2 separate regions of the Homo sapiens genome follow, and region 2 is linked to region 1. The links come from fine-mapping of genetic effects on gene expression. Tissue or cell type: coronary artery. Region 1 holds a variant in brackets; the other region holds the start of a gene. All regions are shown on one strand. Distances are from middle to middle.

What was found. PIP is the estimated chance that this variant, and not a neighbour inherited with it, causes the effect.
Region 2: it holds the start of CDRT4, and the variant in region 1 is fine-mapped to the expression of CDRT4 in coronary artery (GTEx, PIP 0.98).

Annotation. Positions count from the first base shown.
Region 1 is chr17:15,554,395-15,559,657 of GRCh38, reverse strand. TVP23C-CDRT4 (TVP23C-CDRT4 readthrough) reads left to right here. Exons shown (of 6, transcript NR_037924.2): 2 at 4,294-4,376. TVP23C (trans-golgi network vesicle protein 23 homolog C) reads left to right here. Exons shown (of 6, transcript NM_001135036.2): 2 at 4,294-4,376. Among named protein-coding and RNA genes, the nearest start is that of TVP23C, 6.5 kb to the left of the region's middle. The variant C/T (reference allele first, on the strand shown) is at 2,116.
Region 2 is chr17:15,465,679-15,470,678 of GRCh38, reverse strand. It overlaps CDRT4 (CMT1A duplicated region transcript 4), which reads left to right and starts at 3,058. Exons shown (of 4, transcript NM_001204477.2): 1 at 3,058-3,219. The region is part of intron 4 of TVP23C-CDRT4 (TVP23C-CDRT4 readthrough); the gene reads left to right. CDRT3 (CMT1A duplicated region transcript 3) reads left to right here. Exons shown (of 1, transcript NR_146601.1): 1 at 1-368.

The sequences.
Region 1 (5,263 bases):
TGGCCTCGTGATTAAAGTAGTTTCCTAACCAGTCTCCTAGCGTTGTGCTTTTGTCCCTCCTTCTTCTCCCCTCCCCCTCCAGATTTTTACTACAGTAGCCAGAATTCTCTTTCTAACAGGTGAGTCAGAACATGCAGTCTTACACTTAAAACACTCCAATGGATCTCCCTTTCAATGCTTTTTTGGTTTTAGCATCTTAAAATGTCGTTTAGCATCTTAAAATGTCCAAAATCAAACTGCTGATTTTGCCCCGAAATCTTTTGTGTCCATGGTCTTCCCCATCTTAGTAAATGTAACTCCAGGAGTGCAGAGCTATTTGTCTTTTTTTTTTTTTTTTTTTTTTTAAATCTGTACCACTTACAGCAGTACCTGGCACTTGGTAGGCACTCAGTATTTACTGAATAAATGAGAAGAAATCAGTCTTTCAAAGAGCAGGGTAAGAGAATAGTGTTCTAGGTAATATGAACCATAAGTGCAAAAGAACCTGACGGGGCCCAAGTTTGGCATGTTTAAGGAACTGAAAAGAAGGCCAGCCTGGGCATGGTGGCTCATGCCTCTAATCGTAGCACTTTGGGAGGCTAAGGCAGGAGAATTGCTTGAGCCCGGGAGTTTGAGACTAGCCTGGGCAACATAACGAGACCCTATTTCTGCAAGAAATTAAAATATTAGATATGGTGGCTTGCAGTACTCAGGAGGCTGAGATGTAGAGCCTGCAGTAGTGACCCCTGATTGTTCCACTGCACTCCAGCCTGGGCGAGAGCCAGACCCTGTGTCAAAAAAAAAAAAAAAAATGGCCAGTCTGGCAGGAGCTTAGGTACTGTATAAATTTCCTGTTGCTACTGCGGCAGTGAAGTCATATGTACTGTTGTAAAGTTCTGGTGGTCAGAAGTCCAGAATGAGGCTCAAGGGGTTAAACATCAAGGTGTGGGTAGGGGTTCTGGAGAATCAGTTTCCTTGCCTGATTCAGCTTCTAAACACCTGGGATCCCTTCCCCATCTTAATGCCATCAGCACAGCCTGTTCAAATCTCTGTCTCTCACCTCTACTTTGCTTGTTTCATCACCTTCTCTCACTGACCCTCCTTTGTTTCCCTTGTAAGGACCATTGTAATCATGTCATCTGACCAGCCTGGGTAATCCAGGATGATCTCTTGACCTCAAGATCCTTAACTTAATCTCATCTGTGAAATTCTTTTTGCCAAGTAAATTTACATATTCACAGGTTCCAGAGATTAGAACCTAAACATTTTTGGGAGGGGTGAGGAGGTATTCAGCCTACCACAGTTAATGAAGAGTGAGTGGCCTGAGATAAGGTCTTAGAGATTGGCAGGGACCAGATCATGATAGGTCATGATAGGGAGTCTGTTTTTCAGTCATAGTGCTGAGAGGTTTCAGTAGGGGAATGATAGGATTTGATGTGAAAAAGTCTCCCTGGCCGCTGGATGGCGATTAGACTGTTGGGATCGAGAGCAGAAGGCCTCAGCTTTTTATTCATAACATCATACGGTGGATCTCAGTCTTGCTGTACGTTATGATCACACCTCAAAGCAATTATATCTGAACCACTGAGGGCTGGACCCAAGTATCAGCCTTTTTTTGTTTGTTTGTTTGTTTTTTAAGAAAAAGAGCATTCTAATTGTAGCCAAGGTTGAGAACCACTAGTTTCATAGATCTGAATCCATTTTACCTTTTCAGCCTTAGCTCAGTAGGAGCTTCTCGCATCCATCACTTACTGCATGAGCTACTTGACCATTTCTTAGACAAACTTCCTGTATTCCCACCTGTGCCTTTCAAAATATACCTAGTCTAGGGAGGCCTACGCGGACTGTCAGGGCCCAGCTGACAAACTCTCCTCCAGAAAGCTTCTCCAGTGCCCTGTAGTAGGAATGATTTGCTTCCTTCCCTGGCTCCCATTTGCACTTAGATTTCTCAGCCCTGATCACAGTCAGCTGTATATTATCGTCTCCTTTGCTTATTTACTCATGCCTTCAACAAATACTGTACCACTTGGCTGAATGCTCTGCTAGACACTAGGATTTACTACAATGCAAAGACAGTCTTGGTTGGGCGTGGTGGCTCACACCTATAATCCCAGCACTATGGGGGGGTGAGGTGGG[C/T]GGATCCCTGGAGGTCAGGAGTTTGAAACCAGCCTGGCCAACGTGGTGAGACTCTGTCTCTTCTAAAATTACAAAAATTAGCCAGGCTAATTAGCCGAGACACACTCCTGTAATCCCAGTTACTCAGGAGGCTGAGGCACTAGAATCTAGCTTGAACCCAGGAGGTGGAGGTTGCAGTAAGCTGAGACCATACCACTGTACTCCAGCCTGGGCGACAGAGCAAGACTCTGTCTCAAAAAAAAAAAAAAAAAACCTTGTCTTCTAGGTCCTCCAGCAGCTTAATCTATATGGAGGTAGGAGCGGGTAGATGTGCAATAAGAATACTCTGAGATAATTGTTCAAATGGAGATTCGTCCAAGTGCTGTGGGAACATGGGGATTTCAGAGACAGGTTTTCAGCTATTTCAGTATTTGAGCTAAAAAACTTGAAGGATGATTTGGTATTTGGTGGTGAGCAGGGCATGGGGAAGGGAAGAGTTTTCTGAGACAACATGTGAAAGGCAGGAGATGGGAGAGAGACCGTAGTGTTCTTAGAGACCATGTAGTAACAGTATTGCTTCAGTGCTCAACAGTGCTCAATGAAGACAGTGTCAGAAGCAAGTAGGGGGCATTAGATTCTGTGATCTTCTATGCTTTATGTGAAGGAGTTAAATTTTATCCTATACTTGTAGGGATGCCATTGAAAAATTTGAGCAGTAGAGTGACATGGTGTGATTTCCATATTGGGAGGATTGCTCTGGGTAATGTAAAGGAGAGGCTGGAATAGAGAGGGATAAAGGCAGGGAGGCTGGTGAGTGGCGCTAGGAGAGGAACAGGATCAGGTTTGTTGTAGTTGAGGGGAATTGCAGTGAATTGAGGTGTGAACCACTCTTAGAAGCCTAAGGTTATGGGGCCGGGCATGGTGGCTCACGCCTGTAATCCCAGCAATTGGGAGGCCGAGGCGGGTGGATCACAAGGTCATGAAATCTCCTGGTTAACACGGTGAAACCTGTCTCTACTAAAAAAATACAAAAAATTAGCCAGGCATGGTGGCACGCGCCTGTAGTCCCAGCTACTTGGGAAGGTGAGGCAGGAGAATCACTTGAACCCAGGAGGCAGAGGTTGCAGTGAGTTGAGGCCACGCCACTGCACTCCAGCCTGAGCGACAGAGCAAGACTCCATCTCAAAAAAAAAAAAAAAAGCCTAAGGTAAAAGGAAGCAATGCTTTGGGAAGGTAGAGGATTGAAGAGGAGATTCAGGATCAGGGTTCTTAAAAAAATCTTTTTTTGCCTAATAAGTGGCCTTGAAGAAGTTTATATGCATATGCTGATTAGAAAGATTCAATAGAGGCCAGGCGTGGTGGCTCAGGCCTGTAATCCCAGCACTTTGGGAGGCTGAGGCGGACAGATCACCTGAGGTCAGGAGTTCAAGACCAGCCTGGCCAACATGGTGAAACCCCGTCTCAACTAAAAATATGAAAATTAGCTGGGTGTGGTGGCACACGCCTGTAATCCCAGCAACTTGGAAGGCTGAAGCAGGAGAATCGTTTGAACCCGGGAGGCGGAGGTTGCAGTGAGCCAAGATCGTGCCATTGTACTCCAGCCTGGGTGATGAGCAAAACCCCATTTCAACAACAACAAAAAAGAAAGATCCAATAGATAGACTTGAAGATAGAAGAAAGTGTAAATACAGGGGAAAATGATGAAACAAATCCCCGAGGAGGCATGAAAAGAAGTTATTCTGAGCACAAATAATTGGTTTAGCCTTGGATAAGAAGAGGAGGAGTTGTGAGAAGGGGTCATGGAACTAAGGATGCAGTCAGATGATTTTGTGAAGGAGCCAGAAACCTTGAGATTATCCCCAGTAGCCTCGGCTTGCTCTGTGACTTGGGAGAGAACAGGTGAGGAGGACAGGTGTTAAGTTGTAGTAGCCTCATCTGCACCCCAGAGTTTTCTCAGATGGTGCAGCCTAGGGGCAGGGATGGAGGAGCTGAGACTTCGATTATTCTCTGGGGTTTTTGCCAGATGATTTGAGGAGGCGGGTGGAGGATCTGCATGTGTCCTTTTCTAGGTTTTGAATTCCTGATGCTGTAACCACATTATTTTATCTTCTATTTTGATGAGTATGCAGCTTTGCATTGCAGTGGCTGTGTAAACACTGAATTTTGTTTTGCTTCTTGACCATTTATTTTTCCAACCAGGATAGTAATGATGACACTGAAGATGTTTCACTGTTTGATGCGGAAGAGGAGACGACTAATAGACCAAGAAAAGCCAAAATCAGGTAGGAGGAGAAGTTGCATGAGCTGTGTTAGTGTCCAGTGTTGTTCTGTATGTATGTCAGTGCTAGCTGATGGGAGTCAAGGCAGAGTTGTTTCAATGTGCTTGTGAATACTGCATGTTGCTAATTTAACATTTAGTGTAAGACAAAGATGACATTTCAGATTTTCTTGTGAATAATTGGCATACTTAATACTGAGTTTTAAAATCAGCAAATCCAATTATTTGAACACCTGTGTTTTTAATTCTGTGCTATTTTCCAAGAATGTACCATTTCTTTATATAGTTTCTGTAGATACTTTACATTTTGATTTATTGTGCACATTTCAAAATCACATAACATTTCTATTCTAAATTTAATTCTCTCTAAATAAATTCACTTATCGAAAGCAAATTCTACTTGAACCCTGCTAAAATGCTGTTTTTTACTTTTCTTTCATCTTTCATGCCAGTCACAAAAGACCACATATTGTATGATTTCATTTATATGAAATGTCCAGAATAGGCAAATCTGTAGAGACAGAAGATAGATTAGCTGTTGCTAGAAGCTGAGGGGTTTGAAGGTAAATGGGGAATGACTGCCAGTGGGTGCAAAGATTCTGTCTGGGGTAATGAAAAGTTGTAAAATTGGAGTGATGGTTGTACAAATCTGTGAATGTACTAAAAACCATTAGATTGTTTACCTTAAATAAGTAAATTGTATGATATGTGAATTATATCTCAAAAAAGCTATTAAAAAACAAGAAACAGGCTGGGCGCGATGGCTCACGCCTGTAATCCCAGCACTTTGGGAGGCCGAGGCAGGTGGATCACGAGGTCAGGAGATTGAGATCATCCTGGCTAACATGGTGAAACCCCATCTCTACTAAAAATACAAAAAATTAGCCGGGC
Region 2 (5,000 bases), 89 kb after region 1:
CTTAAGAAGTTTATAGACCAATTTGCATCGAAGTTTGGTTTGTCAAGACCTCTCGTGGCCTTTGTGTTCCTCAGAGCATCCTCTGTGCTTTGGCTTCTGAGGCCAATTGCCTGTTCGTTTCCTACCTCCTTTTGCGTTCCTGAGAGATAATTGGATTGGCCCAGGTCCTCTTTTTTGTTCTAGGCTGTAGGTCAGAGGTCAGCCGGTGGACTACCTGGTTTGATCATATGTCCTCCTTTGACTTACTCAGCTGGAGGTAAAGGGCCAAGGGGACCTCATGAGGAAGGGGTGATGTGTGCAGCTGCTCAACACCCTGAAAGGCAATTTGGGGACCAAGAGGGAGAGTTAATAAACTGACCTAACGCATTGAGTTTTTTCTGTGTTTTTTTATTTTTTCATATAAAACTTGAGCGTGGAGGCCAAAGGGATACACCTGAGTCCATTTGGCCAGTTATTTGGGGTTCTGGGGCAAAAGGAAGAGCAGCCAATGTAAGTTGGGTAGGGGTGGGGGCTCTGGGCAGGCTCACCATGGATTTCAGGGGGATTCTCAGGTGGGGAGAGCTGCCTCGTGGCCCCTTCTTAGTGGTGTACGTTCTGGAATTTGCACTTTGATTTTTCTACTTATGAATTGTGTATCCGTGGGCAACTTACTGAACTGTGTGCCTCAGTTTCATCACTTTGTAAAATGGGGATTAGAGTAGTGGAAACTGCCTCGAAGGTATTCCTGGGAGTTTTGAGCCCAGAATAAGCTAGTGTGTGAAGAGTTGAGAGCAGTACCTGGCATGGGGTGTGTGCATGGGTGACCTGGAGCCAACTCTGGAACCCCAGCTTTTTAATTCATTCTGCCTTGAATGAAGGGGCTGGCTGCACTTAGTACCTGCCTGTGGGGAGGTTACCAAGCAGCCCAGTGCTGAGGCCAGCAAGATACACTGAGGGACCCCAGAAGCACTGAGGTCAAGTCCCTGAGTCCCATGGGGCATCTCTGGGTTGGTCAGCACTGGGGTCACATTGCATGTTTGCTCAGCTTGCCCCTTCTCAGTGCCAGTAGAAGCCCATGGTGAGCCCAGATACAGGATCTGTTGACTCACGGGGAATTTGCTGCCCACAGAGGAGGGAGAAATGCACCTCCCCAAAGCCAACAATCAAAGGCCAGGCAAGCCCTGTGGGAGGAAAATAACTTGGGCTACAGATTTTCTTTTCTGGGCTTGGAGTCTTGCCATGGACAACACAGAAACAGACATGATTAGCATCATGGCTTCCGGAAACACTGTGAGTGCGCACTAGCAGGTGGTGGGCTGATGTCACTCTCAAATGGCTTTCTCGAGTCCGAGGGTCTGGCTCCCTGCCGGGCCCTGGCCCATTGCACATCAGCGCTAGGTATAAGCAGCTCAGAGAGTCACTTCAAGCTGCAGAAGACTTCTGGGGTGAGTCTTTGGAGGTTCTTGTGGAACCACAGGGGAGGTCCCCTGCTCATCCGCTACACTTCACACCTGGCCTGTGCACTCAAAGATGTCCACTGTCTTCCCCAGACTTGCTGGGAGAGAGAGCAGAACCTTGTCAGACTGGCCCACCCCAACTCCCCCCCATCCCCCTCACCTGTGCATTTCCCGTAGCATTTCCAGACGCCCAGGCTGTCCCGCACCTCCGTGACTTTGCTCAGATCCTTCCCTTGTCTAGAACTTGTTTGAAGAACTGAATGGAGATACTCAGGGCTCAGGGACACTGAGCCACAAAATAGGGGCCCATGGAAAGGTTGAAGGCATGGCTCCGCTGACACGGGAGCTCCAGAGCGAGAATGAATTCAGGGAGTTTAGGGCTGGAGTTGAAGAGGAACTAGAGCCTGGAGAGAGGGGAGGATAGAGAAAGGCTTTTTGAGAACCGCAGCAATGAGGGCTCTGCCTGAGGCTCTAGGTACTGACTCGTGGGCAGTGAGGAGAGGTAGATTTTTGTTGGGGATCCACTTGATGTATGTTTTCTTACAACTAAATGATAAAACTGAGGCTGAAACACAGGTGTTTTCTGCCTGGCCTTTTTCTAGAATGCACCTCTCTCTGAAGATTATAGAGAACTATGAAGAAAAGGAGATCGTGGGAAATATATGATTGAGTCAGTATGATTTGGAGGAAGCTCAAGTGCTTGCTGTGGTTGCAGAGAAGTGAGGGGACTTTACATTCCTGGCTGGACAGGTTGAACTCTGGGATTGGAGAGGTGGTGGGGGAGTGGAGAGGAGCAGAAGGAACAGACACAGGGAGAGACATTTCAAAGGATTGTCAACAGGGCATGATGATAACACAGGGAGAGCAAGTCCAGCCTGTCTCCTGGTGCTGCCCCGAGTTGATGACTGCAATTAAACTGCCAGACTTTACAGCCTGCTCTGCACTGTGTCCTCCTGGCATCTTGGGGACTTTTTCACGGTTGGGGCCACAGGGGAGGTTAGAAGCTGCTCGCTCTCTCCATTGCCAAGCACTGGCCGGTCAATGGAGTTGGGGAGAAGGAGGCTAATTCTCAACAGCCTGTTAGTGACAGCCATTCTCTCTCCAGCTTATCTAAAGAGGATTTTATTTCAGAAGAAGGCTGAGAGCTTGTTAGAAAGGCAAGTTCTTGGGCCCCACCCCACATATACTGAATCAGAGACCCTGGGAGTGGGACCCAGCAATCTGTCTTAATAGACCTTCTAGGAGATTCTGGCACTAAGGAAAGAGACCACAGGTCTTGTCTATCTCTGTAGTTGGCTGCGTCTGGGCCAGAGTAACTGCTTGTTGAAATGATCAGAGATCTCAAATGAGGTCATGCATGTTGGGGTGTGTGTGTGTGCATGTGTGTGTGTTGTGTATCTTTATGTGTGTATGTGTTTGGTCTAGGGTCCAGCACATAGTAGGTGTTCACTCTTGGGGGTGGGAATAATCACTCTAATGTCCGTGTTTGAGGACTGCATTGCTGGTGACCGCTGAGCCTGCAGAGGAGGAAGAGAGCAGGGCAGAAGATTCAGGAGGGGGTGCATGGCAACTTCTGATGTCACAGTGCCCCCCTTCACTCCTGACTTCTGGCTCATGGGTCACTTTGGGGCAGGGGCAAGAGGATGGTTAGCTGCAGCAAAGAGAGAGCCAAAGAGAAGTGGGATTGAGAGCACAGGGGACAGCTGGAGACAAAATATAAACGCCGGGCAGGGGAACAGCCAAGATAGTGCAGGAAGGATGGGGAATCACAGAAACTTCTCAGGTAACAGTCTGGGCCAGAACACTGGGTGTCCCCAGAGAGGGAAGTCGAGGGTGAAAGTGAAAAGGCTCACACTCAACTTCCAGGAGAAGGTCAGGTCCTTCATCAAAGAATAATCCTGCCATTAAAGGGTCCCCAGAGTCCCCAGCATTACTTCCCTTAAGTGGATCCCAATCCTGGTCACCCAATCCCCTCAGGACTTTGTAAAACGTACTGATGCCCAACCCTTGCCAACAAGCTCGTCCCATTCCTAGGATTCTGATTTACTTTGTCTGCAGAGGGCTTGAGCTCAGGTATGTCTATAATGACAGCCAGGTGATTCTATTGTACACTCAGGGCTGACCACTCTACTTAAGCAAAACACACACACACAAAATATACCCCCGTTCCCCCCCATCCCCTGGGGGTGATGGGTTGGGGATGAGGGTGATGATGTTCCCACAGATGCATTACCTCTCCACAGAGCTCAGGACCAAAGGAATGTTTAGCCAGAACTGGTAAATACCTTTAAAAAATTATTAAGCACCTATAGAAACCTATAGGGACAAAGGTGACTAAGAGGATTTTTACAAAACAATAATAATCAAGTCACTTATTTAAAAATAATTAATCATGCTTGTAATCCCACCACTTAAGGAGGCTGAGGCAGGAGGATTGTTTGAGGCCGAGAACTCAAGACCAGCCTAGGCAACATAGCAAGACCCCGTTTCTACAAAAATAAAAATAAAAATAAATTAGCTGGGCATTGGTGTGCACCTGTAGTCCCAGCTACTCTGGAGGCTGAGGCAGGAGGGCCCCTTGAGTCCAGGTGTGTGTCTGTATTGAGTGTGTGTCTGTGTGAGCCCAGGAGTTTGAGGCTGCAGTGAGCCATGATCGTGCCACTGCACTCCAGCCTGGGTGTCAGTGAGACTGTCTCTATAAAAGTAAAAATTAAAAAAAGTAATTTAGAACAAGGAATAAAAGACACCAGTGAATGAAACAAAAAATTAGTAAGAAACCTTGCGATCCATGAATGCACCTTGGTGTAGATAGGGGTGGGGAGAAGAGAACAGAAGAGACTCGTTTCTGCAGATGAGGCAGCCCTTCCCTTCTCCCCATCTGGGTGGAAGCTGGCCCAGCGCCCAGGCTCCCACCCCAGGCAGTGTTTCTGGAGGCCTGAGCCCGAAGCCCACTGTTTGTGCTGGAAGCTCTTGCTTTACACTTGTTTGAGCTACATTGAGTCAGTATGAGAGAGGCAGATAGGTGACGCAGGTTAAGAACATGGGCAGCCGAGTCCCTGGGTTCAAATCCAGACTCTGTCACTTGTCAGTTCACCCACTGGCCTGGGTCAGGGAGCTGACCTGGGTCCCAGGTCGCAGGCTTCCTCCAGGCTTCCTGGTAGGCTCTGCCCTCCCTCCCCCTCCCTTTCCCTCCCTCTCCCTCCCTTTCTCTCCCTCCTTCAGGGATGTCTTCTAAGTGCTTACCACTTGTGCAGGGCACAAAGAGGGTTTCCCCACCAGCTGTAGAATGCTCAGGCCCTGTAACAACTGGATCTGCCCCCAGGTGCAGCAACTCTAGGATCCTCTGTTGCCCTCCTGCTGCTACCACCCTCAGGGGTCTGGAGTCCTCACGATGCGCGCTGCATGTCCTCCCCACGGTGGATGGCCAGGCTCCCTCCCCCTCTTCCCTGACCACAGCAAGAGCCCCTTGGCTGCCATATTGGAAGGCGTTAGCATGCGTGTCTGTGCATGTGTAGGCATATGTGTCTCCGTGTTTGTGATATGACTGTGTGTTTGTGTGTTTTG